6 separate regions of the Homo sapiens genome follow, and all the other regions are linked to region 1. The links come from fine-mapping of genetic effects on gene expression. A gene starts in region 1. Each other region holds a variant in brackets. All regions are shown on one strand. Distances are between the middles of the regions.

Region 1 (4,982 bases):
TGAGGCAGGAGAATCGCTTGAACCTGGTAGGAGGAGATTGTAGTGAGCCAAGATCGTGTCACCACACTCCAGCCTGGCCAACACAGCAAGACTCCATCTCAAAAAAAAAAAAAGAAAAACAAAAAACCAAGTCCCTTTCAGGTCTGAGTCTTCAGCCTCTTCATTTCCATAATAGTCTCTGCACACAGTGGGTGTTGAAACAACATTTAAGGATAATCACCACCACCTACCTCCAACACACTGCCAACTCCCTGATCTAAGACAGAAATACTTCTCCAGGGAAAACAAATGCCACAAATAACTTGAAAAGTAAGGTCATAATTGGTGGACAGATATGTGATAAAGCAAGTAAAGTGTCAATAGTAGAATCTAGTTGGTGGGGATGGGGATGCTGACTGTATAATTCTTTCAACTTGGCTGTATGTGGGAAAATCCTCAATAAAATGCTAGGGGAAGACGAAGGTTTTTTTTTTTAATTGTCACTTTCTATAGTGTTAAATATAAGTTAGCCTTCAAAGATAGCTCAGAGGCCAGGTGCAGTAGCTCATGCCTGTAATCCCAGCCCTTTCCGGGGCTGAGGTGGGAGGATCGCTTGAGCCGAGGAGTTCAAAACCAGCCTAAGCAACACAGGGAGACCCCATCTCTGTAAAAATAAAAAGTTAAAAAAAAAATTAGCCAGGTGTGGTGGCACATGCCTGTGATCCTAGCTACTTGGGAGGCTGAGGCAGGAGGATCACTTGAGCCCAGGAGTTTGAGGCTACAGTGAGCTATGATTGTGCCACTGCACTCCAGCCTGGGCAGCAGAGCGAGACCCTGTCTCAAAAAGGAAAACAAACAACAACAACAACAACAACAAAACAAAGATAGCTCAGAATTCACTGGATAAGCAAGCAGTTTAGCTAGACTCAGTCTGCAGGTTGAGCTCAATGAAAGGAGATTTTGACTTTCCTTCAAATAAATGACTAAGCACTAATTTCCTCATAGACATCATTGAATCTTCTGGGCAGTTAATGGGAGAAGACTCTGCTACAGTGAAAGGGAGGGGTGGGGGGTTGCTGTATTTACAAACTCCCTTCAGAGTAGAGACCCAGGCACCTGTCGTCACTTCCTAGCTACAGTTGACATCCGGTAACCATCCTTGGTCAGCCACACTTTCTTTCTGCCTCTGCCAAGAGGCTCCCCCTAGCTCCTCATGGGCCACTTTCTGGCTGTGAGCTGATCAGGCAACTTACACAGGGTCACTGGGTCAGAGGACTCTTGAAAGGGGGGTTGGAACATGAAGCCCCATGATTCAGGGATCCTGGGACTTGTTTGTTTTGTAGGGTTAGAGGGATGGAGGAAAATCTTCCAAATCAGCAGCCTCGAATTCACCAAGAATTTCTACAAGATGAATTTGAGTTGAACCTTCAGTCTTTCCACGAAGAAGGTCTGCTCGCCACCCTCAAAGCCATCTGCCTTTCTGTCTCAGTTTATTCACAGATCCTTTCAGAGACCAAAAAAAGCACCCAAGAGAGGCGGGGACAGAGATGTGGTAGAGGAAAAGACACAGTACAAAGAACGCTCCGCAAGCACTTACTTCCTCTGAGCCTTAGGAGTCCTACCTAAAAGGTTTCTTGCTTGTTTTTCTATTACACTGTCACTCCCATCCGGTATGCAAACAGTCGGCAATGCCTACTACAGTAGCTCGCTGGCTGCCAGGTGCAGGGGCTGTTCAAAAGCGACATCAGGGTCCTAAAAGGTGGGAAAAAGCAGCAGAACTTGCATGGTAGTTGATTCTTTCCTGAAGAATAGGGTCCGCCCAGCCCCACCGGGCAGGAGGTGTCCTGAGTCAGCCTGGCGTTCAGCCCAGTGCTGTGCACTTGGGTGACAGGTGGGGCCCCTGCACTGCCACCAGTAGCATATGTCGGAGCTCTGGGCCCTGACCATCTGCCAAAGCTAATCTTACGACAAGCAGATTTGCTCCCATCAATACCCAGGGAGAGGGATAGGCAGGCCCCTTGCTGCGTGATTCTCGAAAACAACCAGGATCCCGCGATCCGCTTCTCCTATGGCTCCAGTCCAAAGGCTGGAATGGGGGCGTCACCTGCACCAGGCAACTTCGCTAGCCTGTGGGCGTTCCAGGGCAGGGGACGGGGGCGGCACCTTCCAGGTGTGCAGGCGAGATGACAAGTGCGGTCCCTCCTTCCTCCCTCCCCGCGAGCAAACAGCCTGGGGGTGGTGGGGAAGGCGGCGTGCCCAGCCCTTCATCGCCCCATTCTTTCCCACGGCCCTGGCCGCCGCTGCAGCTGGGGCGCCACTCTGCACTCACCTGGGCCCGCGCCGGGCGGGGCGAAGTCGCGGTGGTAGGTCCTCGGCGTCCGGGAGGAGCGGACCGGCCCTCCCGGGGACCGGGCAAGAGGGTGGGCCGGAAGCGGCATCAGGCCCCGTGCCCATTGGCCAGCCTCGCCAGGACGCTGCGACCTGGGACGTGCGATTGGCTGCGGTGCGCCGCGTCGGTGCTGGCTTCGAGGTCGCGCGCCCGCCCACTTCCGGGGTCGCGCCAGGTCAGGAGTCCAGAGTCGGCTGAAGCGAGTTGCCGCGTTCTCTCTGGCGGCGCGACACCGGCCCGTGGACCGCCCGGCCGCCCTCCAGGACCCGGTCTGCAGGAGCGGAGAGGGCGGTGTGGACACCGCCTGCAGGCGAGGAGAAGGGGTGGCGGAGAGGGTACCTGGGTGCGTGGCTGTGCGGCGTCAGGAGGAGCAGGGTGTGGGCGCCCGGCCTGGGGCGTGGAGAGGACGCAGGGAACAGGTGTCTTCCTGGTATCCATCGAACTGAAACGTAGCCCTTGAGCACACACTACACTTAAAGCTTTACTCTTTCGAGGAGGAGTCCTGGAAGCATATGTGATTTTGTGACTATAGCATGGTGTGGTGTCAGTAACAGGCCCTGGATTGCTCAAACTCTATTGTCAGTGACAAAACCCAGTGTAAGCTGGCCTAATATATTAATAGTAATATGCGAGTCCTCCCGGGGTGGCGGGCACTGACGTAAGTGCTTTACTTGGGTCTTCTCATTTCATCCTCCCAGCAACCCAAAGAGCTGGCGGCGTCATTCCCATTTTACAAATGCGAACACGGGCTCAGAGATGGAGCGACTCACGTTGTAAGCGATGGAACTGGGATTTGAAAACACTGTATCCCGCCTGGCAGAAAACTGGCAAGGTTAGGATGGAGAAAGGAGAAAAAAGAAAGATGTCGGCCAGGTGCGGCGGTTCATACCTGTAATCCCAGCACTTTGGGAGGCCAAGGCGGGCGGATCACTTGAGGTCAGGGGTTTGAGACCAGCCTGGCCAAGATGGTGAAACCCCGTCTCTAGTAAAAATGCAAAATTAGCCAGGGGTGGTGGCGCATGCCTGTAATCTCAGCTACTCGGGAGACTGAGGCAGGAAAATCGCTTGAACTGGGGAGGTGGAGGTTGCAGTGAGCTGAGATCGTGCCACTGTGCCACCGCACTACAGCCTGGGCGACAAGAGCAAAACTCCTTCTCAAAAAAGAAAAAAAAGGGCATCTGATGGAAGGCTAGATACTACCCGACATTGAGCTAAACCAATGTCACCTGGTTGGACCTAGGGACCTATTCCTGCTCCCCCTCTAGTTCTGTCTCATTTCTGGGGTTGCACACAGGCTTTTCCTGGGCCTTCATGTTTGGGGAAGCCCCACACAGGCCAGCTCCAGTGGAAGAAAACGCCCCCAGAAGCCTCTTGTTCACCCCGGATGGCTCTGTGGAGTCCTGTGTCTGACCCTGACTTTAGCTTGGGCCTGAGGGACTGGCATTTGTGGACTTGGTCTGGAGATGTGGGCAGAGCCCCCCTCAAGCATAAGGGCTCAGCCAGGCACAGGGGGTGGCTCCTCAGAGGAAGATCAGGGTGCTATTAGCAGAAGGACGATGAGTGGGCCGGGCGCAGTGGTTCACGCCTGTAATCCCAGCCCTTTGGGAGGCCGAGGCGGGTGGATCATGAGGTCAGGAGATGAGACCATCCTGGCTAACATGGTGAAACACCGTCTCTACTAAAAACACAAAAAATTAGCCGGGCGTGGTGGCGGGCGCCTGTAGTCCCAGCTACTCGGGAGGCTGAGGCAGGATAATGAGGTGAACCCAGGAGGCGGAGCTTGCAGTGAGCTGAGATTGTGCCACTACACTCCAGCCTGGGCAACAGAGCAAAACTCTGTCTCAAAAAAAAAAAAAAAAAAAAAAAAGGAGGATGAGTGGTCGCTAGACTGCTGGAGAAACAGTCTAGAGGTAGGGAGCCCTGGGTTCTGTCCTGCCTGTGACACTCTGTAGCCATTTATCTCCTCTTTAGCTTTAGTTTCCACATTAAAAGAGGCATTGAAAAAAAATGAAAAAGAGGCATTGAATTAGGAGCTTTCTGTGGCCCCTTGCAGTTTTCATGTGTGGTGACAAAGTTCAATATAGTTTTCCTGAATTCAGGGGCTTGGGGACCCATGTCCCCCTATCCCGAGTTCTTTTTTTTTTTTTTTTTTTTTGAGAGGGAGTCTCACTCTGTCACCCAGGCTGCAGTGCAGTGGTGAGATCTCAGCTCACTGCAACCTCCACCTCCCAGGTTCAAGCGATTCTCCTTTCTCAGCCTCCTGAGTAGCTGGGACTACAGGTGTGTGCCACCACGCCAGGCTAATTTTTTTATTTTTAGTAGAGACAGGATCTCACCATGTTGGCCAGGCTGGTCTTGAACTCCTGACCTCAGGTAATCCACCCATCTCAGCCTCCCAAAGTGCTGGGATTATAGGCGTGAGCCAGCATGCCCGGCCAAAAGTTTGCTTTCTTTTGAGTCTGTGATCAGCCTTTCACTGAATACACAATTTACATGTGAGAGTGGGTAGAGGAATAGTCACATATGCCTTACTCACTGTCTGGCTCAGTGAATCTGCATTTTGTATAAACAATAGGACAGAGGAAGAAATCACATATGCATTTGTCTTCAGTGA
Region 2 (4,982 bases), 32 kb after region 1:
CCAACTTTCCCCGCCGGCGGCTTCCGAGGTGGCAAGCCCGGTCGGGGGACGTGGGTCCGGAGGCGGGTGGGGCCCGCCCGGGGGTCCTTCCTGGAGCTGGAGGTCCCCGGGCTGGCTTCGGGACCCGGCGCCGCCGAGGGCCAGCCTCCCCCCCGGGGCTCTAGTCCTCGGGCCCGTCGTAACCCGGCGGGGCCGGATCCCTGCCCCAGATGAACTTTGTGTCACGAGGCGCTCGCTGTTGGCAGATTAGCGCCGAATCAGGCCCGCGGTGGCCGTCCCGAGGGTGGAAAAGACCGGGGGCTTTTTTAGCGGGGTGGAGGTTGAGGGGACAGGATGAGTAGTCCCCGTGGCGGTCCGATTTCTCCTCCCTGCACCCTAATGACCTGCTTTCCCGCCCACAGGGATACCCACCCACCATCCCAGGGTCTACAACATCCACAGCCGGACCGTCACCCGCTATCCTGCCAACTCTATCGTGGTCGTAGGAGGCTGTCCTGTCTGCAGGTGAGTGGGTCTGCAGCCTGGGGACTGGCCCTGGAAGCTCTGAGGACCCCCGCCCTAACCCCCAGGACCTCACAGCTCTGCTTGTGGGAGTGGGTCCGGCTTGACTTGGATCTTGACCAGAGCCCTTTATGGGAGGGACAGACAGGCTGCCCGAATGCGGTGTGGGAGAGTGCGGGTCCGCTCACCCTTGGCTCTGAACACATTTTGTGGGGGCAAAAGGGTGGATTCCTTTTCCTAGATCTTGGGGCATTGCACCCCAAGTGATTGGGATGTAGAAATGGTAACAACGGGACTCGTGGTCCTTTCGTCTTTGTTCTGGGACTTGCAAGGAATCAGGTGTCTGCTTTTTCCTTCACTTTCCGCAAGTTTACTCTGCAGTTGATCGTCGAAGGTGGTGGAAGGTTTCATTTTCCCGGAAGGGGCATTTGGAAGTAAGTGCACCAGCAGGACAGACCTCAGTGGGAGAAGCGACGGCCGTAAGAGCTGCTTTATCCAAAGTTGGCTTGAAACGCTCTTCCACGAGCTGGACCAGGATGGAAACCCCGTGTTTCTTTGAGGCAGGAGTTATTTTTTTCATATCCTCGCATTGGACCTGCACACGCTTTTTGGTTTTTATAGGGCCCCGAGGTGCAGCTAGAGGCTTGTTTTGTGGAGGTTTTGAGGATTCACATTTAAATAAGGATTAATTAAATATAAACCCTTGGCAGCTGGGGGTGTTCAGATTGCTTAGAAAGTAGGGGCAGAGTTGGCCGGGACAGGGTTTTCAGCTGTGTCTCGGAGGAGGAAGTTGAAGCCACTGAGATGGAATTAAGAAACCCTGGTTTGGACTTAGACTTGATTTCAAAAGTGTGTGTGTAAGGCCTAGAGTGGAGTCACGGGGAAGTGAGTGATTTCAGAGCCTTAGCAGGCAACTTCCTGGGAAGGAAGGGCAACCTAGAGGTGGGGACAAGAGGCTGGGACCTCGGGGGCAGGTTGTGGCTGCTTGCCTGCACAGGGACCCCGTGACAAACCCTAACTGGGACGTCAGTTTGACACAGTTGGTCACCACCCAGCAGAAACATTAGCCTTTGGAGTGAAGGTGGAGGGAGGGCAGGGTGGGGCGCTGGCTGCCTTCGGGACATAGTTCTCTCCCGGAGCTGCACCGGGTTGGGGGGCTGGCAGAGCTGTGTGAGTGTGAAGGCACATGGAGGGGACTCAGAACATGGAGGAGCAGAGGGTCTGCCTGCGTGTCATTGTCCATGCCCTGCCATCCCGGTGTCCAGCCTGCCGGAGGAGCCGGGTTCCGGTCCTGGTCCTGCCAGGAACAGCGGGGCTTGTTTCCCCACCTGGGACGTGGGGGTGTCTGGTGAGGTGTCTCTGAAGCTCTTAGCTCTTCTCTGCCCAAACCCCTGAACTTGGAGAGGTGAGAGACCAGCGGCAGCGAGGGATGG[G/C]CCAGATATCCCAGGGCTGGGGGGCGCCGAGGTGGTGGCGCAGTTGCTGTCGGTATGGGGGCACTGGCCCTGCCACTTCCCCTTCCCTAGGTGGGAACTGTGTCCCTGCGGAGGCCCATGGCTTCCGCTAACCTGGAGGTGCTCTCCAGTTATGCAGAACCTGGAGCGGGGTCAGACTGTGCTCTGCTGGGAAGGATCTTGGGCTCGGCCCTCAGAGGCTGTAGGGGTGTGGGGTCCTTGGTTACTTAATCACTGCTCTCTGCCTCTGGGCAGCTGCACCAGGCAGGGTGGAGGCTGGGTCCTCTCTGGACAAGGTTGGGGGGTCCTTAGTCCTTTAAGTTGGGACCAGAGCACTCTTGGATCCTGCGGCGACCCCTTGGGTTGCAGCCAGGCCCTCCCAGCACACACGTCCCTGCGCTCTGCCCGTGGTGCCTTGGATGCTGGAGAGTGGCTCTGGCTCCCCGAGGCTTTGCCTCTGCAGCTGCATTGGGCATGGGATGGGCCCCTGTGCCCTGTGGCAGCCAGAGGGCGAGCAGGGGGCTGGGTGCTCTGCTGCTGGCGTGGGTGGGGTGTGTGGTCCCTGGGCCACTCCTCTCTGCGAGGAGAGTGGAGACGGTTCCCTGAACACACAACACACACGTCTGGCCGCTGCCTGGCGTCTTGGCCCGGGAGACAGGATACCACTCACATGACCACACTTCCTCCTGCCCCAGGTCCAGCCCGCCGGGCTCTGTCCCCCTCCCTGCCTGGTGGCATGGCAGGAATTTGCCCAAGTCACACATCTGTTAGTCCTTCTGAGTGAGGCTTGGCCAGAGAAGCCCGTGTCCCTTGTGGCTCTGCTGCCCTGGCCAGGCCTTCGCTGAAGCTGCCTGACTCCATCTTCCCTTTCTAGCCGTTTATGAGGAAGCATTTCCGCAGCCTGGCGGCGGATATGTCCCTGCTCCTCCCACCCTCCTGCTTCACCCCTGCCCTGCCCTGCCCTGCCCTGCCTTGCCCTGCCCAAGGCCTGGGCCTCCCTGAAGCCAGGTTCTCCCTTGCCCAGGGAGGCCAGTCATTCTTTGCTGGGGGTGTGGTTGTACCTAGGTGCAGGATGAGGTAGCTGCGCTGGGAGGCTCTCCTGGGCTGGAGCAGAGCCTGCGTCCTGCAAGCGGGGAAGGCAGGAGTGGGGAAGGCCCCTGGCCTGCACCAGGCCCCCATGAGTACTGGCTGGGCTGTCACTGGGTATTTAGTTTTGGGGGTGACCAGAGAGAGAGGAAATCCTGGAAAGGATTTCACTTTTCCTAGGGAAGGTGAAAAGAACAGCTGTGGAGGGCGGATGTCGCTCAGAGGTCCAGGGTGCGGCTCAGTGGCCAGCGTGGAGGCTGCCACGGCCCTTGGGGGGCAGAGGTGGGCTGTGGAGGGCACGGGGTGGTGACTGTGGAGCCCGGGAGGGGCTGGAGGGGAAGGAGCCTGTGACAGCCTTGGGCTTCCAGACGATGGAGGTGGAGGGGCTGCTCCCTCCTACCACCTGTGACCTGGAAGCCAGAGCTCCCCTGGTTGAGGAAGTGGCTGAGTTAGCTGGGATGGCTCTGCCCATATGTATGGCCTGTGGGCTGTCCCCGTCCTGACAGTCTTGGCCTGAGGTGTGGGGGCAGCGGATGGGCCGGAGCTTGGGCCTGGGCTGCTTGCTGGGCAGGGCTGCAGACCTCGGTGCCCAAGTGCTCCCTCAGTGGCCTCCTGAGTCTCTGACCTTGGGCTCAGCCCCCAGCTGTGGGCCAAGTGGCACTGCTGGGGTGGGTGTGGTGGCAGGCAGAGTCTCCGGGCACCTTCTCAGGCCTTTCTTCCACAGGGGAGGCGAGGGCTGGCCCTGGCCATTGGGTTTGCTGGGAATGGCCCTGGGAGGTCCTGGTGAACTGTCCCTAAGCCAGGCAGCTCCCCTGTGGGGAGTGGACACCCTGGGACAGCCAGAGCCTGGCTGGAGCTGCTTTGGGGCCACCTCGCCCTGCGCTGAGCATGGCTTCAGGCCCTCAGCCCTCTGAGGAAGCCCTGCGTCTCCCCTTTTCCTGGCGAGGCCTGGCCTTCCAGCGGGGTGGTGGTCTGGGGTTGTTCCTGGGCGTGGATGGTGCCTTGAGGCCACCATGTGCGCAGAGGGCAGCTTGGTGCCCTAGGGCCAGCCCCCTGTGACACTGCCTTTGGGGGCTACCTGGGAGGGAGAACTGGGACCTGCAGGATGGGTGCTCGTGACTGGGGAGCCCATCTGGGTTCAGATCCCAGCCACGCCTTTCCCGGCTGGGAGTCCCTGGACACACCCTCAGCTTCAGCCTCCTGTAAAGTGCCTGTGGGGACACAGGGAGGGCGAGGATGGCCTTCTCCCTGGGCAGCTCAGAGCCCTGCTGCCAGCCCCCTCTGTCCTTGGTGAGGCGGGAGCCCCGCGGCCTCTACTGTCCCAGGGCCCAGCTCTGAGTGGATGACAGTGGCATGACTGGCCACTTTCACTGCAGGACTGGAGTCGCCTTAAGGGAGTGCTCTTGGAATTAGTCAGTTCCCTAATTTCGCCAGTGGCCATGGTCCCTCCCTGGCCGCGTGGCTTATTGCACAAGAATGGGGGAGGGGCGGCTAGAGAGAGCCGGTCAGGACCAGAGCGGTTGAGAAGGTTGAAACCCACCTCACCAACTCAGGTGGGCTCTTCCGGGTTTGGAAGGGAGGAGAACTCGAGGCTGTGGGGACCGCAGGTGTTCCGGGGCAGGGGTTCCCCTTCTGCCCTCCAGTGCTGGGGACAGGACTGCCCTGCAGCTTGGGGAGTCTTGACCTAGAATCTGGATTGTGTTTCTCAGTTCAGAAGATTTGGGGTTTTAAAAAGTAAATGATGCCAACACTCCTTTTGAGGTCTAGGGCAGTACTGCAGTTAAAACTTTAATATTTCTGCAGCAAGACATGAATATTCAGATAAAGTAGGATAAATTACGACTATAAATAGCCACACACCAGTTCAGGTCACATGTTGCTGCCAGGTGAGTTTGCTGTCAAGTGACAGCGAGTTCTGCCTTCAGCGCCTCTTGGCGTTTGAAG
Region 3 (4,982 bases), 30 kb before region 1:
TGGGAGGCTGAGACAGAAGAATCGCTTGAACCTGGGAGGCGGAGGTTGCAGTAAGCCGAGATCATGTCACTGTACTCTAGCCTGGGCAACAAGAATGAAATTCCGTCTCAAAAACAAAAAAAAAATTTTTTAACGGTACATTTTACTTTATTTATTTTTATTTTTATTTTATTTTTTGAGACAGAGTCTTGCTCTGTCACCCAGGCTGGAGTGCAGTGGCATGCCTTGGCTCACTGCAATCAATATCCTCCTCCTCCCAGGTTCAAGCGATTCTCCTGCCTCAGCCTCCTGAGTAGCTGGGATTATAGGTGCGCACTACCACATCTGGCTTTTTTTTTTTTGAGACGGAGTCTCGCTCTGTCACCCAGGCTGGAGTGCAGTGACGCAATCTCGGCTCACTGCAAGCTCCGCCTCTGGGGTTCACGCCATTCTCCTGCCTCAGCCTCCCGATTAGCTTGGACTACAGGCACCCGCCACCACGCCCAGCTAATTTTTTGTATTTTTAGTAGAGACAGGGTTTCACTGTTAGCCAGGATGGTCTCGATTTCCTGACCTTGTGATCCGCCTGCTCCGGCCTCCCAAAGTGCTGGGATTACAGGTGTGAGCCACCGCGCTTGGCCTAATTTTTGTGTTTTTAGTAGAGATGGGTTTCACTAAGTTGGCCAGGCTGGTCTCAAACTCCTGATCTCAAGTGATCCGCCCACCTCAGCCTCCCAAAGTGCTGGAATTATAGGCATGAGCCACTGTGCCTGGCTAATGGTACATTTTAAAATAACTGAAAGAGGGCCAGGCGCGGTAGCTCACACCTGTAATCCCAGCACTTTGGGAGGCCGAGGTGGGCAGGTCACTTGAGGTCAGGAGTTTGAGACCAGCCTGGCCAATATGGTGAAACCCCGCCTCTACTAAAAATATAAAAATTAGCCAGGTGTGGTGGTGCGTGTCTGTAATCCCAGCTACTTGGGAGGCTGAGGCAGGAGAATCGCTTGAACTCAGTAGGTGGAGGTTGCAGTGAGCCGAGATTGCACCACTGCACTCTAGCCTGGGAGACAAGAGCGAAACTCCATCTCAAAGAAAAAATAATAACAATAATAACTAAAAGAGTAGAATTGGATTGTTTGTAACATAAAGGCTTGAGGAGGTGGATACTCCCTTTACCCTGATGTGATATTATGCATGCATGCCTGTATCAAAACATCTCATGTACCCCATAAATATACACACCCACTCTGTACCCATAAAAATTAAAGTTTTTTTTTTTTTTGAGATAGAGTCTCACTGTGTCATGCAGACCATGTTGGCCAGGCTGGTCTCGAACTCCTGATCTCAGGTGATCCGCTGGCCTCGGCCTCCCAAAGTGCTGAGATTACAGGTGTGAGCCACCATGCCCAGCCAAAACATTAAAAATTTAAAAAAAGAGCAACTTGCCATTCTCATCCAGGGCATACACCGACGTCTGCCCCGCGGACACCTGCTTCAGCCTCTGTCTCGGTGGGGACGGGATGTGGTACCAGCAGTCACCTGCGAAGGGGAGGCTGACTCAGGCACGCTGCCTTCTCCTCCTTGCATGGGCCAGGTGGGGCTGTGGGCCTCGGTCCCCAGCTGCCTCTCGGATGTGTAGCCTGGTGTCAGCTGTGTGCCACACAGAGCTGACACGTGCCCTGCCGTCCACCCAGCACTGTGCCTGGGGTCTCTGGAAGCCATGGCGGGCTCCGATGGACTCATCTTGCCAGCGCAACACAAAGGCTTCCTGTGCAGCTCATGGTGGAGACCCAGCCTCAGGGGCTGCCCTGCTAACCCATCCCTGTGCAGAGGGCAGCTGAGTACCAGCGTCCCCGTGTTGGACACTGGACATCTGGAGAAGAACAAGCCAGCACAGCCCGTCCTCCCGGGCAGCCACCAGATTGGTCACTGTGGAGTGGACCCTGCAGGGCCGAGACACAGGGGCCACCCCAGGAAGGGCCAGGCAGGCCTGGCTCCAGCTGCCCCATTACCAGGGTGACCACCTCCCAGTCAGTCCCAGTGGGAGGGGGACTCCCACTTCTGGGGGAAGTCCCAGCTTCTGGGGGACCCTGGCCCAGAGGGGATGTTCAGCAAACATCAGCTTGGACGGAAGGTGAACACTGCAGGGGCTCCTGGGGCGCGGCACTCACCGGCTGGCTGCGAGGGGTACACGGATCCCCGGTAGAAGGCGGAGCCGTCCCTTGCCACGGCCCACACCTGGTAGCAGGCCCCGATGGAGATGGAGGCGAAGGGCTGGTCGGTGCCAACGTGCAGCCAGGAGGAGCCCTGGGGATAGCAAGGAGGGGCGCTGAGGTCACCAGGGCCCCCACCCCCAGGGCCCCACCTCCAGGACCAGCAGAAATGGGCCTAGCGCGTGGGCAGCATAGGTGGCTGGGGGACAGCCGGGAGTCACACAGCCCCACCCGGCCTGATCTCGGTGCTTGTTGAAATCCTGGGCGCATCTCATCCTCCTGCGAGCAGGGAAAGCGCCCCCGTGGGCGTGTGCACCTCACCGGGGTGCTGACCACCAAGGACTGGGTGCCAAAGAGCCGCAGTGTCCCCTTGGCCCACCTCTGTCACCCCCGCCCCACCCGCCTCATTCCTGGGCCAACTGCCCCAGGGCACAGGGACCCACTCGGACCACAGGCAGTGTCCACTGGTCCTAGGGGCTTGTCCTGAGCAGGGTCTGAGCCCTGCCGGACTCCAGAGCAAAGGTCTCATTTCAAGAAGAATCTGTCTGGCCCCGGCACTCACCGCAGGGTTGAGCTCCGACACGCCCAGGCGGCACAGCACATCCCCCTTGTCGCTGACGGCCCAGAGGGCGATGCTGTGCCCACTCCCCTCGGCACCCGGGCTCTCCGGGATGATGGACACGTCCCTGAGGGCGATGGGGGG[C/T]ACCTCCAGCCAGGGCCCACTGGTCACCAGCTTGCATTTTCTGTACAGTGGAGAGGGGACACAGCCCAGGGACCCCAAGGTGACCACCAGGCTCCAGGGCCTCTGCCTCTGGAGCCAGGAGGAGGAAAGCAGCCAACCCCGGGGCGGGTAGAAAGAGGGGCCCAGAGGTGGCCTCCTCCCCACCCCCACCCCCATCCAGGCCCAGCCAGGCCCCCACCCCCACCCCCAGCCCCAGCCAGGCCCCGTTCTCTGTCCCGCTCACAGGTGGAGTGTGCCAGTGACATTTCTCTTATTTGTTCATGAAAACAAACTATTCTGAAACCAGAGAGCACCGGGAGCCTGCGGGCATTTCCTGGGCTGACATTTACTCAGATTCGGCTTCCCTCTTCACCCTACTCCCCACTGCTTCTTCCCTTGGGACTGAGGTCAGAGGCCAGGAGATCTGGCCCGGGGTGCAGGGAACCAGAGCTCCCTCAAGGGTGGCTCCTCCAGGAGCCTGACCGTGACAGTCACCCTGCAGCCCTGCCTCACCTGGCCCAGCACCTCCTCCTCACAAAATCCTTCATCGTTTTGGACCCATGGTATGAGCTGCAAGGAGGAAGAAGATGAAATCAGGGCCACTTCGTGGAAGTTTCTGGAAAGGGACCGTGCATGTAAACATTCTTGTTCTACCCGTTACAGGGCATGGGGACTGGGTGGAAGCCATGGATGGGGTTCAGAGAAGGAGGTGTCACCACGCGCGGCTCTCAGGAGGCGCTTCCTGGCTGCCCCGGCAGGATCAGGGTTGAGTGCAGCCCTGGGGACCTGCAGGGAGGGCCTCCTGGGGGTTGGGGCCTCCCAGGGGCAGGGGTCTCCCTGGGGAAGGGGGTCGGGCCTCCCTGGGGCTGGAGCGGAGCAGTCACTTGTCAGGGGTCAGGCTAAGGGGACTCAGCCCTCCCCTCCCCAGGCCCCATCAGAGCCCTTTTGGGGAGCAAGAGCCCTCGGTCAGGATGAGGCCCGAGGCTGAGCGGAGGGTGGTCCAGGAGGCCTGGCTGTGGCCGAGGGGACGGTCCTGGTCTGCTCAGAAGCCACCTGGCTCTGGGCCCCAGCTCAGGCTGTCCTGGCTCCATCTTCCAACAGGCTGAGACTGTGCCGTGAAGGGCCTGCCCACGCCGTGCACCTGCACCGCCAGGGTCCAGGGCCTCGTGACAGCCACTGCATCTCTCCGAGGGGCTCACACTGCCCCTTCACCTAACATCTCGTGTTGGGTCCCTCAACACTAAGGGCCTGGCTCAAAGCCCCCCAGAGCTCACCCTGCTAAGGCTGTAGAGGCCACTCGCCCTCCTCAAGCCCCTCAGTCTGGTGCCCTGGGTGCCACCATCTGACCCTCCCAGAGCCCGTGCCTGGCACAGCAGGGATGAACGTGGCGTGGGGGAGCCATGGTGCTCCTACCCGTGCCACACATGGAGGCCAGGGGTGCCACGTGTGCAGGGAGCACTCCCCTGGGCCCCTCCTGGCCTCTCTGCTGGCTCCTCCCCCTCCAGTAGCAGGGCTGGCACCAGGGGTCTGCTCCTTGGCCAGGCCTAGGGGGCAGGGTTCAGCCTGGAAGAGCAGTGAGGCCAGAGGCCACACACTCCAGGGCCCTGACATTCAGGACCCAGCCCGAAGGCCCTGTGCAGGGAGAGGCTTACGCAGGGAAGTCGCTGGCATACTGCCACCCCTCCTGGTCCGTGCCCCCCGGAACGCTGAAATCCACGAACCAGTCGGAAACCTGGGAGGAGTGGGTCAGTGAGGATGGGACCCCCCGAATCCAGAAGGCAGTCAGAACACTCGAGGAGGGGCAAGGAGGGGTGGGAGGGCGGATTCCCAACCCCCCAGGGGGCAGCGGGACCTCACCCAGGCCCACTGCAGGGACGGGGGCTTCGTGCCAGCCTTCGTGCACTCCTGCAGCCCCGAGGCATCGCTCCACATGTACCGGTCCGTGGGCAGACCCCTGCGGCAGGACAACAGGGCAGGTGACGAGGGAGACTGGGGAATGAACTGGCTCACTCAGACACCCCCATAACACCCCACAGGGAAGCACCGAGCTCCAGTCTCAGAGCCAGCCA
Region 4 (4,000 bases), 100 kb after region 1:
CCCGAGGCCCCAGGAGGCCCGGCTCGCCCATCAGGAATGTAGGTCAAACTCCCAGCGGGAAGGGTGAGAGCCCAGGCACCCAGGGCAAAAGCTCAAGTTCCTAGGAGAACAGGGAGGCTGGCCAGAAAACAAGGCCTCCACTCGCCCTCCGGCACCAGTCCCAGCCCACCCTACGACTAAGCATCAATTTCCACAGACCGCGGTGAAGTAGAACCACAGCATGCTGGCCCAGATCTCTCCTCTGTTCTGGACTGGGCCATCCCACGCGTTTCTCTTGGGGTTCACAGGATGACAAGTGGGGTTTATGTATAAAGGGACAGATCGCTCACCCAGTTCAGTTGACACGGGGGACCCAGTGGCAATCTCACCGATCTTGGCCACTCCATCGTAGTAGGCTTTTCCTGCCAGGATCATAGCTAGACACAAAAGGTGACACACAAAATCGTCACTTAGACAAGGAAAGGAGGAAGCAACACAAGTTTTCTTCCAAACACCCCCTGGTCCCTTCTGGCTGCAGGAAGGTTTGGGCTGTGGCAGGTGTGGCTCTCAGGAGGTAAGACCTGTGTTGAGAGTGGTGCCGGGGTGGAGGCCCTCCAGCCAAGGGACAGCCCCATGAGATCCTCGTCTCTGACCAGCCCCGGGGAACCTTCAGCAGCAGGTGCTGAAAGTCCAGAGAAGGCTCAGCTTGCTCCTGATGCCAGTTTCAGAGTGGATGCGTTCCTAACGTTGAACTAGGGCTTTGCCTGGGCACGGTGGCTCACACCTGTAATCCCAGCCCTTTGGGAGGCTGAGGTGGGAGGAGTTTGAGACCAGCCTGGGCAACATGGTAAAACCCCGCCTCTACAAAAAAAAAAAAAAATACATAAATTAGCCAGGCATGGTGGAGTGTGCCTGCAGTCCCAGCTACTTGGGAGGCTGAGGTGAGAGGATCGCTTGAGCCCAGGAGGCGGAGGTTGCAAGTGAGCCGAGATCATGACACTGCATTCTACTCTGGGTGACACAGCCAGATATTGTCTCAAAAATAAATATAAAAAAAGAAGATACATCCTCTCCAGCCAGAAATCTTTTCTGAGCTAGTTCTTCTCCAGCACTCCAGGTCTGCAACATTCTTAGTTAGGAGTTGTGTGAGGTGGACTAGGAGCCTGGTCCTTTGATGGCAGTGCTTAATTTTTCTATTGAAAAAGGCATTTTGAGCCACAACCAACCAACCTATTTGTTGCCAGGAGAGAATATATGAAATTTGAAATATATTATCATTCCAAAAAGCAACACAATTGTCTGAAAAAATAACTGAATGCTCTACTTTTTCTTTTTTGGCAAAGACAAGAAAACTTTTATTGCTACAAGGTGGGTTCTAATTATCTTAAAAATAGTACTGCCCCCTTCGAACTGATTCTGAAGACTAAATTATAACTATGTAACCTCCAGGGGCAAATTACTTACCCTTTCTGAAACAAAGGTTGCTCATCCTTAAAATGCCCTAAGAATGTGAGTGACAGATGAACAAATGGAAGCTGCTAATACACTTTTTTCACTTTACAATCTAGGTTTGAGGGTATTGAAGATGTATGATAGAGACCCAGCCTGGTTAGTGTAATTTTGGAGAAAAGCATTTATTTGGAATTTTACTCTAAGATTGGTTTCAGACATAGAAATCAGTTTCTCCTGGAGCTTTGGAGACCACACAGTTTTGGAGCTAAAAGAGCCCTCGGGAATCCCAGAGGCTATACCAGCTGCAATGCCGCAATGTATAATGGGCAATTGTTTTAACAAGGTGGATTTTATTTTATTTTATTTTTTTAGAGGCAGAGTCTTGTTCTTTCACCCAGGCTGGAGTGCAGTGGCAAGATCATGGCTCACTGCAGCCTTGACCTCCTGGGCTCAAAGGATCCTTCTGCCTCAGCCTCCCAAGTAGCTGGGACTACAGGCACGTGCCACCATTCCTGGCTAAT[TA/T]AAAAAAAAAAAAAAAAAAAAATTGAAGGGGCTGGGTGCAGTGGCTTACACCTGTACTCCTAGCATTTTGCGAGGCTGAGGTAGGAGGATCACTTGAGCCCAAGAGTTTGAGACCAGCCTGGGCAACATAAGGAGACCCCCCCATATCTCTACTGAAAACAAACAAAAAAAACTAGCCAGGCATGGTGGTGGTGGCACACGCCTATAGTAGTCCCAGCTACTCAGGAAGCTAAGGTGGGAGAATTGCGTGAGCCCAGAAGGTCAAGACTGCAGTGAACCACAACTGTACCACTGTACTCCAGCGTGGGCAAGAGTGAGGCCCCTGTCTCAAAAAAAAAAAAAAAAAAAAAAAAAAATATATATATATATATATATATATATATATTTTTTTTTTTTTTTTTTTAAGAGTAGGGGTCTCACTCTGTTGCCCAGGCTGGTCTTGAACTCCTGGGTTCAAGGGATCCTCTTGCCTGAGTCACCCAAAGTGTTTGGATTATAGTTGTGAGCCACAGAATTAATTCATGTGCAGGTCCAGCTGAAGGTATGAAAAGCCAAAACAGTAGTATATTTTTTCTGGCACATTAATCTACTTTAGGATTTATTGTAGAGTTAAAAATTTATAGCCAGGTGCTGTGGCTCACACCTGTGATCCCAGTACTTTGGGAGGCTGAGGCAGGAGGATCACGAGGTCAAGAGATTAAGACCGTCCTGGCCAACATGGTGAAATCCCGTCTCCACTAAAAATACAAAAATTAGCCGGGCATGGTGGCACATGCTTGTAATCCCAGCTATTCGGGAGGCTGAGGCAGGAGAATCGCTTGAACTCGGGAGGCAGAGGTTACAGTGAGCTGAGATTGCGCCACTGCACTCCAGCCTGGCGACAAAGTGAGACTCAGTCTCAAAAAAAAAAAAAAAAAGTACATATATATTTATATATATATAAAAGTTATGGTTTTTACCATATACATATCCAACTTTAGGAAATGCAATATTCTATCTACTGCACTATTATAAGACTCAGAACAACCTTAAAGTGTAAATGTAAAAAGAACAATAGCAATTAGCATTTATATACATACTTAGTTAATCTATCCAATTATGTTGAGACACAGTCCGTAATGTCATCAGCCCGTTGCGCTAAGGGCAGCGGAGTGGAGATATTCTGGGACATACCCAAGGTCAATGTTGAGTCAGCGGGAAGGCACACAGCTCTGGCTGGGCACTTCACTTCCTCAGCTCTAAATTATGGTGCTTTCTGATTCTTTGGTCTCGTCTAGAACTAAGAAAGAAGTGACTCCACCTAAAAACAAGGTGTGTAGCCAGGAAACTGTCAAGTTGTAAGATGGAACATCTTAGTATGAAGATGTTAAGTTGTAAAGTACTGATCATCTGAAAAGCAAATTAGTGCGGGAATGGAATGCAGGATTACACAATATTTAAGCAAAATGTTTGGTTTGCATCCACACATGAAATCACAATTTTTCATTAATTGTTGACTTACATTGAAAACCATGTAACCTTCTCGGTCTTGTAAAATATCTTTGCTATGATGATAAAGTTAAATTAACTTGAAAATTATAAAATTTAGCCAGAAGAGATAAATAATACTTTCATAATTTTGCCTCCCTTTTGTGAGCACATTAAGATATTTTCTACTACTTATTGTTTTAAGGAAAGAAGCATATTAGTTTTTTGTTTTTTTTTTTTTAAGAGTCAGCGTCTCACTCTGTTGCCCACACTGGAGTGCAGTGGTGTGATCATAGCTCACTGCAGCCTCCACCTCCTGGACTCAAGCCATCCTCCCACCTCAGCCTCCTGAGTAACTGGGACTACAGGTGCACGCCACCACACCTAGCTAATTTTTTATTTTTTCTAGAAATAGGGTCTCACTATGTTGCCCAGGCTGGTCTTGAACTCCTGGGCTCAAGCGATCCTCCCACCTCAGCCTCCCAAAGTGCTGGCATTACAGGCATAAGCCACCATACCTAGCATAGTTCTATTTTAGTGGTTGGCCAACTACTTCATCAGTCTAGACCAATCTATGTAC
Region 5 (4,000 bases), 52 kb after region 1:
TTTATGAGACAGGGTCTCTGTCATCCAGGCTGGCATGCAGTGGTATGATCACAGTTCACAGCAGCCTCGAACTTCTGGGTTCAGGCTATCCTCCCACCACAGCCTCCTGAACAGCTGGGACTACAGACATGTGCCACCGTACCTGGCTAATTTTTTATATTTTTTGTCTACATAGGGTTTTGCTATGTTGCCAGTTTGGTCTAAAACTCCTGGGCTCAAGTGATCCTCCTGCCTTGGCCTCCCAAAGTGTTGGAATTACACAGACATGAGCCATTGCACCTGGCTTCAAAGACATTTTGAATGAAGTTTCAAAAGCTAGCATTCCTAAACCAAATCATGCCAATGCAGTCTACAATGAGGCAGGTCTACGTTCCCAGACTCCTCAAGGCTCACGCGTAGGTCTGGGGCAGGCACATCTTAGAAGCACATCCGTTTCATATCATCAAGACACTCCACACCTGGGCACCACTCACAGCTGAACTAAGGCCCCGGACACAAGGTATAGGGGCCTGGCTCCTTCGCCCCAAAGCAAGACAGCTCCTGGAGCGAGGGGTGCAGACACCACCACCCAGCCTCCTCCCCTTCACCCACAGGTCTCACACCAGGGCGCACTAACCTCAGCCAACCCAGCCCGGGAGTGATGTCCAGCCGCGCTGCTCCCCACCACGCCATCACCTCACCTTGTGTTATTCTCTGCATGGCTTCTAGTGTCAGTGTTTTTGTTTATTTTTTATTGTCTGCTTCCTATCACTAGAACAGAAGTTCTGAAGAGGCAGGCAGAGTCCGGCCTTGTTCTCCTCTAGCTGGAGAGCCCACACCAGGGCCTCTGTGCGGTGGCGGGAATGGATGAACTGGTTCCGGGAGCCCAGGACCTCCATGCTGGGCCCCCAGAGGCACGTTAGGGTTATCTTTCAGGGTTATCGTTAACCCTAAACGCCGTGCCTAGAAGGTTTAGGGTTAAAGATAACATCCACAGTGCCTGGGAGTAAAGACTTTCTGAAGAAAGATGAAGTTACCACTTTTAATGTAAGCCTCTCTTCAGAAAATAAGAAAATGAAAGAAAATGGTGATTCAATGGCTAGAAGACTGCAGCCAGGCAGGAAAGATAAGAAACCTAATAAAATCTAGCAAACTAGAGGCGACTGTGTGTAAACTCTCACTGACAAGATAGAGTCCACATGAAAGAAGGGCTGAAGTCAAGGAGGTGAAAGGCTGCATGACAAAGAAGGGAATCTAGAGGATCAAAGGCAGCAAGTCCCCTCCTCCCTCCTCCCCGGGGACACCACTCTCCCCCTGGGGACAGAGCAGAGCAAGGCGGTCACCACAGGACCTGCGCCTCCCAGTCGGGGATGGCGAGTCCAGGACCCAGGACGCCCTGCTGCGGCTTTACTCACAGGAGCCGCGGTCTCGGGCTTGGACGCTGGGGCCTTAAAGGTGGATGTCGTCCTGGCCGAATCTGCTCTCCTGTCGGCAGCTGCCCCCATGGACAAGCATTCCAAGTAGTCGGGTGGGGGGATGACAACACTGCTATTCTCAGACAAGTTCACGGTGCTGATGCTTCTCACTGGTGTGGGGCTCAAACCCAAAAAGGACACAGCACGTGTTAGATAATGTCTCACCACCAAACCCCAAACATCCTCTGTGTCCCTGACCAAGGACAACAGTAATAGTACATCACCAATCAAAACCTGATCTTGATC[TCA/T]CACACACAGACACACACAGTACATATATCAATACAAAACACTGTATTTTTTAAATTTTTTTGCGACAGAGTCTCACTCTGTCACCCAGGCTGGAGTGCAATGACATGATGTCAGCTCACTGCAACCTCTGCCTTCTAGGTTTAAGTGATTCTTCTGCTTCAGCCTCCTGAGTAGCTGGGATTACAGGTGCACGCCAGTGTGCCCAGCTAATTTTTTGTATTTTTAGTTGAGATGGGGTTTCACCATATTGGCCAGGCTGGTCTTGAACTCCTGACCTCAGCTGGGATTACAGCATGAGCCACCACACCCGGCCTAAAACACTAATGTTTTTAGTGGTTTCTAAACATATCCTCACAAGAAATTTTTTTTTTTTTTTTTGAGATGGGGTTTCCCTCTTATTGTCCAGGGTGGAGTGCAGTGGCGCGATCTTGGCTCACTGCAACATCCGCCTCCCTGGTTCAAGTGATTCTCCTGCCTCAGCCTCCCAAGTAGCCGGGATTACAGGCGCCTGCCACCACGCCCAGCTAATTTTTTTGTTTTTTGTTTTTTTTTTTTTTTTTTTTTTTAGTAGAGACGGGGTTTCATTATGTTGGCCAGGCTAGTCTTGAACTCTTGATCTCAGGTGATCTGCCCGCCTCGGCCTCCCAAAGTGCTGGGATTACAGGCATGAGCCCCTGCGCCTGGCCAAAAAATTATTTAAAAGACATGACAAAAGGAGAGGAAACCTTTTAAATTAGGGGCTGGCTCTTGATTGATTTAATCTAAGGAAAGAAATTGGAGACTAGCAAAAGCTGGAGTGAGCAATGAGCTAAGAGTTAAAAAAAAAAAAAATGTAAACACTTGAAATTTTAACATCCTAAAAGTGTTACTCAGTTTTTGTTCCCCAGCACAATGGCATTTTAGCTCTTCTGCTAGGGATGAAGATTGCAGACAGCATCAGACCCTGGGGAATGCAACGTCGGACCTGGAGGCCTTCTACCTGGCTAGCTGGATGGGTTATGGGGGTTCTGTGAACTTCGATCCTCCCGCCTCAGCCTCCAGAGTAGATGGGACAATGGGCATATGCCACTATGCCCTGGCTAATTGTTTATTTTTTTTGTAGAGATGGGGATCTTGCTATGTTGCGCAGGCTGGTCCTGAACTTGTGGCCTCAAGTAATCCTCCTGCCTCCATCTCCCAAAGTGCTGGGATTACAGGCACAAGCCACCGTGCCCGGCCAGTTTCCTCATTTTTTAAAGTGGGGGCCCACCTCATGGGTCTGCTGTGAGAATTAAGTGAAAAAATCAATGCAAAGTCCTTTGGACAGTCTCTAGGCAATAACTACTGTTAGTATCTGATCTGGAATACGGATTTGGGGGTTTTCGGCATGGAGGTGCTCAGCAAAGCCCATCAGTGTATTTCAAGCCATGGGAGTGGATGAGATGGCCCAGCACAGGCAGGAAGGATGGACCCAGGGTGACTCCCAAGAACACTGATGTTTAATTGATGGGCAGAAGAGGGGTGCAAAGAGCTGGTGAGGCAGAAGACAAACAGAGCACAGGTCAAGCAGCCGGGGCCAGAGAACATTCCAGAAAAAGCATACAACAGCGTTAAGGGCTGTAAGATAAGAACGGTAAGATAAGTGTAAGATAAGGACGGAAAACACATGGCTTGGGTTTAGCGACCAGGAGGGGCAGGGCACAGGGAGGGAGTTTCAGAGGGCTGCAGGACTGCGAGGAGTAGGTGGCCTGGGCTGGGTCTCCTCACAGCAGCAAAGCTCGGGGACAACAGAAATCACGGCAGACAGCACTGTGAGCCGCGGTCTCATCTCTGACTAGTCCACGAGAGCTGAGGCTTAGGGCAGGGCCTGCGACACAGCTAGATGGTGGTGTGTTACAGAAACGACAAGGCAGGGGTTTCTGTCACCGGGAGAGCTCAGCCACGTTCAGGGCTACCTTGGCGTGGGCACGGTCACTGCTTCTGTCTCATTTTCTTCCAGCAACTTCGTGTACGACGACGGGAACCAACCCCTCCTACCGGCAAAGAGGGAGAAAAGACCCTATCAGCAGTAGACATGTGGACGGCAACCTCCCTGAACAACCTGGTGAGAGCTCAGGGCAGACAGGTCCACTGCTCCAGAAACGCCCATGTGTGGAGGAAATGAAATTAAGGCTTTTAATAGGTAAATATGGACTTTCACATACACTGAACAATGTGTATTGTTAACAATTTTTTTTTAATAGAGACAGGGTCTCGCTCTGTTGCCCAGGCTGGAGTGCAGTGGTGCGATCATAGCTCACAGCAGCCTCGAACTCATG
Region 6 (4,474 bases), 35 kb before region 1:
CCTTTCAAAGTATTCATGAAATTGATGCTGTGTCATAAAACAAAAATAAAAGATTTCACAGCAATGTCTGCTTCAGGCACACGGGGAACCACGCGTTTTAATCAACGTATCGATAAAAAACACCAGGGCACGGACACTCCAGGGGAAATGCTTATTGAGTAAAGTATCCGAGGAAGTGATGCAGGGCAGGTAAACAGCTGGTGCTCAGCAGCGAGAGGACGCGTCACTCTGCCGTTCTGCAGGGTGACGCCCTCCCCGTACCTCGCTGAGAGCCACCTGCAGACACAGCAGGCCACAGCAGAATGCACAGGTCACTGTTGTAGGGGAACAAATCGTAATGCCCAGAGAAAACCTGATAGTGAAATGTAAACAGACAGGACAGGGTGGTTCCAGGTGGCCACCACCGCCAGGCCCTTCCCGTGATTGATCTGAGAGCTTCACAGCCGGCGGCACTGGGACCCATTTCCAGAAACACTGGAACACCAGGTCTCTCAGATGCCCGCGGGAGGGGCCCCAGGGAGGCCTTTCTCAGCATCAGCTTTTGGGTGACAAACCCCATACAGCAAAACTGTACAAATACACACAACGGACCCCCAGCTGACAGTGAGACCAGGACCCTAGGAAGGTCAGGTGGTGGTGAAGTCATCCCCTCTCCAACCGAGCAGAGCCTGGGGTTGGGCTCTGATGACCTCCCGGGCAAAGTGTCCAGGTGGAGGAAGCAAACTCCCAAATGGGGCACAGAGGTAATAAAAAGCAGCTGAGAGACTGCGGGATGGGGTCGGGGCCACTTGGCCGACACCTTCTGCCTCGCCTGGCCGGGCCGGGCCAGCCTCTCGCCACAGGATGGAGGGTGACTGTGCACCCTGCTCCATGTACAGGACGGGCTGAGGGTCCCATGGCCACTGCCGACAGACACAGTAGTACTGCTCCCCACAGAAGCCCGCAGTCTGCACCCTCCTACAACATGATTTGACATCCAAGAAGCCCCTGTCACCAGCGCATCTGGGGAAGGGGCCGAATGGGGGTTGATGATGGTGACTGCACACACGGACACTGCCTCCAGCCATGGGGCAGCCTCTCATCCTCTCCCAGCCTCCCGTCTGGTACCCCGGCCCCCTCAGGGAAGAGGACATCCCATCCACTCCAGTGTTATTTCCAATCTGCTGTCTCCTTCCTTCACTTTTTTTTTTTTTTTTTTTTGAGATGGAGTCTCTGTCGCCCAGGCTGGAGTGCAGTGGCATGATCTCGGCTCACTGCAGCCTCCGCCTCCCGGGTTCAAACGATTCTCCTGCCTCAGCCTCCCGAGTAGCTGGGATTACAGGCACCCACCACCATGCCCAGCTAATTTTTTTTTTTTTGTATTTTTAGCAGAGATGGGGTTTCACCATGTTGGCCCGTCTGGTTTGAAACTCTTGACCTAGGTGATCTGCCCACCTCAGCCTCCCAAAGTGCTGGGATTACAGGCGTGAGCCACGGCGCCTGGCCTCCTTCCTTCACTTTTGAAATTAAAGCCTCTTTGCAAGTCCTGCTCTGAGAAATGGTCACTGCACATGGTAAAGAGGCCCTGAGCCCCATGGCCATCTCTCTTGGTGAGGGGTGGCGGGCCCGGGTGCTGTCTGAGATGCCAGCTCAGGAGGGCTCCATCCTGGCTCTGCTGCCCCAGGGCCGGCGTTCCCGGAGGGCTCCAGGTTCCCGGTTCTAGTCCTGGAAAGGCAGAAGGGAGAGGGGAAGGGAAGGGTGGGAG[G/A]GGCCTCTGGGAGGTGCAGCCCCACCCCATGCCCCACACCCCGGGACTCCTCGCAGACGGGGACACGTGTGGGAGTGTCCGCGGAGCTTCACATTTCAGGGCCGTCTCAGCCAGTGCCTCTGAAGTGGCCGCAGCCTTGGGGCCAGGTTCCCTCCTGAGTCCACCTGGGCCACATTGCTCCCACGGTGCACACTCCAGCACAAGAATGGCTCAGCCTTGATCCCCCAAACTGGGCACCGTCCCTGCATGTAGGTGTGTGGGGGGGCCTCAGCAGCAGACGGGGCCATGGGCCTCTGGTGGGGCACTCGGCTCCTGCTCCTGGGACGAGCTCCGGGGGGCCCTGGTGGCATTGGCCCGGACAGAGATATGGTCCCAGCCTCCCTGGAAGGAGAGAGCTGTGTCACCAGGGGACTCGGGGACTCGAGGATCCTGGAGGGGATCTGCCTGGGGGCCTCCCTGCAACCCAGACACCGGGTCCCAGGGGACAGTCCCACAGTGGTCGTCCCGTCTTCAGCACCCAGTGCAGGCACAAGGTGATAACACAGCCCAAGGCCGCGGGCCCCGCTCACCCCGATGCCGTAGTCCCAGCCGTGGCCCTTGGGCTCGTGAGGCTGCACGCCGGTGCGATGACACACTGTCCCCCGGCTCAGGCTGTGGCTGCCCTGCACTTTGTTGGCGATCACCCAGACCTGGAGCACAGACCCCATGAAGCCCTCAGCCCTACCTGCAGTGGGACGGCTGGGCATGGGATGGGGGAGACCAGAGAGGGAACCAGAGCACCCCAAGTGCCCGATACCCCCTGAGCACCCCCACCTGGTCCAGGGGCCCCACGGACACTCGGCACACGTTGTTGGACACGTGCTCCCAGCTGGAGCCCTGCGGGTAGCTGGGCGTGATCCCTTGGCGATACCACAGGTTTCCTGGGGAGAAAAGCAGTGAGGGTCAAAGGGGAAGACCTTCCCGGCCCCTCCTGCCCGTGCGGCCCGGCAGCCGGTGGCCAGGCCCCGCTCTAACCACTTCGGGGTTTGGGAAGCTGCTGGGGAGGCAGGAGGGTCCTGGCCCCTGAGTCAGGGCCACAGCCTCCTCCGCTTCTCCACACTCAGGAGCCTGGGCTGCAGCCAGCTCCGCCTTCTGCACACTCGGGGCGTCCCCCGAGCCTCATAATCGCCCTATTGTGCTGGGCACGGCCGGCCTCCTGATCCTCTTTCTGCTGAGGCAGAAACTATGGACAAGGGAAGTCCTAGCCAGAGCAATCAGGCAAGAGAAAGAAAGAAAGGGCATCCAAATCGAAAAAGAGGAAGTCACGGTGTGTCTGTTTGCCCATGATAGGATCAAATACCTAGAAAACCCTAAAGACGCCTCCAAAAGACTCCTAGATTTGACATATGAGTTCAGGAAAGTCTCAGGTTACAAAATCAATGCACACAAATTAGTAGCACTGCTACATGCCAGCAGCAACCAGGCTGAGAATCAAATTAACCCCTTTTACAACAGCTGCAAAAAATAACATAAAATACCTGGGAATGTACTTAACCAAGGAGGTGAAAGATCTCTATAAGGAGAACTACAAAACACTGCTGAAAGAAATCATAGATGACAGAAACAAATGGAAATACATCCCATATTCATGGATTGATGAGTATGGGATGAATCAGTGGAAGAATCAATATCATGAAAATGATCATACTGCCCAAAGCAATCTACAGATTCAATGCAATTCCTATTAAAATACTGTCATCATTTTTTACAGAATTAGAAAAAAAAATCCTAAAATTAATATGGAACCCACAAAGAGCCTCAATGCCCAAAGCAATTCTAACCAAAAAGAACAAATCTGGAGGCATCACATTACTGGACTTCAAATTATACTACAAGCCTACAGTAACAAAAACAGCATGGTGCTGCTATAAAAATAGACACATAGACCAGTGGAACAGAAGAGAGAACCAAGAAATAAAGCCAGATACCCACAACCAATTGATCTTTGAGAAAGCATACAAAAGCATAAACTGGGGAAAGGACACTTTATACAATAAATGGTGCTGGGTAAACTGGATAGTCGCATGTAGAATAATGAAACTGGATCCGTATCTCTCACCATATTAAAAAAACAACTCAAGATGAATCAAACACTTACATCTAGACCTAAAACCATACAAATTCTATAAAAAAAACCTAGGAAAAACTATTCAAGGGCTTTGCCTGGGCAAAGGATTTCTGACTAAGATTCCAAAAGCAAATGCAACAAAAACAAAAATAAAGGAGCCCTAATTAAACTAAAAAGTTTCTGCAGAGCAAAAGAAATAATCATCAGAGTAAACAGAAAACCCACAGGATAGGAGGAAATATTTGCAAACTATGCAACTGACAAAGGACTCATAACCAGAATCTAGAAGGACTCAAACAAATCAGCACACACACAAAAAACAAAAAACCAATAATCCCATCCAAAAGTGGCCAAATGACATGAATAGACATTTCTCAAAAGAAGATATGCGGCTGGGCGCGGTGGCTCATGCCTTTAATCCCAGCACTTTGGGAGGCCAAGGCAGGCGGATCACCTGAGGTTGAGAGTTCGAGACCAGCCTGACCAACACAGAGAAACCCCATCTCTACTAAAAATACAAAATTAGCCGGGTGTGTTGGTGCATGGCTGTAATCCCAGCTACTCGGGAGGCTGAGGTAGGAGAATCGCTTGAACCTGGGAGGCAGAGGTTGCAGTGAGCCGAG

Direction of the effects. Alleles are on the strand shown, and positions count from the first base shown. SD is a standard deviation of normalised expression in the study named. Not every link is listed here.
For the expression in monocytes of the gene that starts at base 2,415 in region 1, TA is the low allele of the variant in region 4 and T is the other (moderate effect, 0.69 SD a copy in CEDAR).

What was found. PIP is the estimated chance that this variant, and not a neighbour inherited with it, causes the effect.
Region 2: its variant is fine-mapped to the expression of TECPR1 in whole blood (TOPMed, PIP above 0.99). The same link has a PIP of 0.9 or more in blood mononuclear cells.
Region 3: its variant is fine-mapped to the expression of TECPR1 in whole blood (INTERVAL, PIP 0.97).
Region 4: its variant is fine-mapped to the expression of TECPR1 in monocytes (CEDAR, PIP 0.95).
Region 5: its variant is fine-mapped to the expression of TECPR1 in whole blood (TOPMed, PIP 0.99).
Region 6: its variant is fine-mapped to the expression of TECPR1 in whole blood (TOPMed, PIP above 0.99). The same link has a PIP of 0.9 or more in esophagus muscle, sun-exposed skin, thyroid, tibial artery and unexposed skin.

The regions. Positions count from the first base shown.
Region 1 is chr7:98,249,818-98,254,799 of GRCh38, forward strand. It overlaps TECPR1 (tectonin beta-propeller repeat containing 1), which reads right to left and starts at 2,415. Exons shown (of 26, transcript NM_015395.3): 1 at 2,309-2,415; 2 at 1,577-1,731. It overlaps LOC124901706 (a long non-coding RNA gene), which reads left to right and starts at 2,542. Exons shown (of 2, transcript XR_007060448.1): 1 at 2,542-2,711; 2 at 3,067-4,982. RefSeq lists an enhancer at 2,062-2,805 and silencers at 2,122-2,511, 2,602-2,701.
Region 2 is chr7:98,281,950-98,286,931 of GRCh38, forward strand. It overlaps BRI3 (brain protein I3), which reads left to right. Exons shown (of 3, transcript NM_015379.5): 2 at 402-504. Among named protein-coding and RNA genes, the nearest start is that of BRI3, 2.8 kb to the left of the region's middle. RefSeq lists a silencer at 1-228 and an enhancer at 4,122-4,834. The variant G/C (reference allele first, on the strand shown) is at 1,935.
Region 3 is chr7:98,220,236-98,225,217 of GRCh38, forward strand. TECPR1 (tectonin beta-propeller repeat containing 1) reads right to left here. Exons shown (of 26, transcript NM_015395.3): 18 at 4,771-4,867; 19 at 4,566-4,645; 20 at 3,427-3,483; 21 at 2,755-2,935; 22 at 2,151-2,286; 23 at 1,426-1,518. Among named protein-coding and RNA genes, the nearest start is that of BHLHA15, 11 kb to the left of the region's middle. The variant C/T (reference allele first, on the strand shown) is at 2,896.
Region 4 is chr7:98,354,713-98,358,712 of GRCh38, forward strand. It overlaps BAIAP2L1 (BAR/IMD domain containing adaptor protein 2 like 1), which reads right to left. Exons shown (of 14, transcript NM_018842.5): 3 at 330-416. Among named protein-coding and RNA genes, the nearest start is that of BAIAP2L1, 44 kb to the right of the region's middle. The variant TA/T (reference allele first, on the strand shown) is at 1,953.
Region 5 is chr7:98,302,802-98,306,801 of GRCh38, forward strand. BAIAP2L1 (BAR/IMD domain containing adaptor protein 2 like 1) reads right to left here. Exons shown (of 14, transcript NM_018842.5): 11 at 3,638-3,715; 12 at 1,395-1,575. It also overlaps a transcript of BRI3 not described here. Among named protein-coding and RNA genes, the nearest start is that of BRI3, 23 kb to the left of the region's middle. RefSeq lists enhancers at 3,043-3,543, 3,544-4,000. The variant TCA/T (reference allele first, on the strand shown) is at 1,701.
Region 6 is chr7:98,215,379-98,219,852 of GRCh38, forward strand. It overlaps BHLHA15 (basic helix-loop-helix family member a15), which reads left to right. Exons shown (of 2, transcript NM_177455.4): 2 at 1-79. TECPR1 (tectonin beta-propeller repeat containing 1) reads right to left here. Exons shown (of 26, transcript NM_015395.3): 24 at 2,558-2,664; 25 at 2,314-2,433; 26 at 1-2,125. The coding sequence ends at 2,012. Among named protein-coding and RNA genes, the nearest start is that of BHLHA15, 6.2 kb to the left of the region's middle. RefSeq lists an enhancer at 2,908-2,967. The variant G/A (reference allele first, on the strand shown) is at 1,745.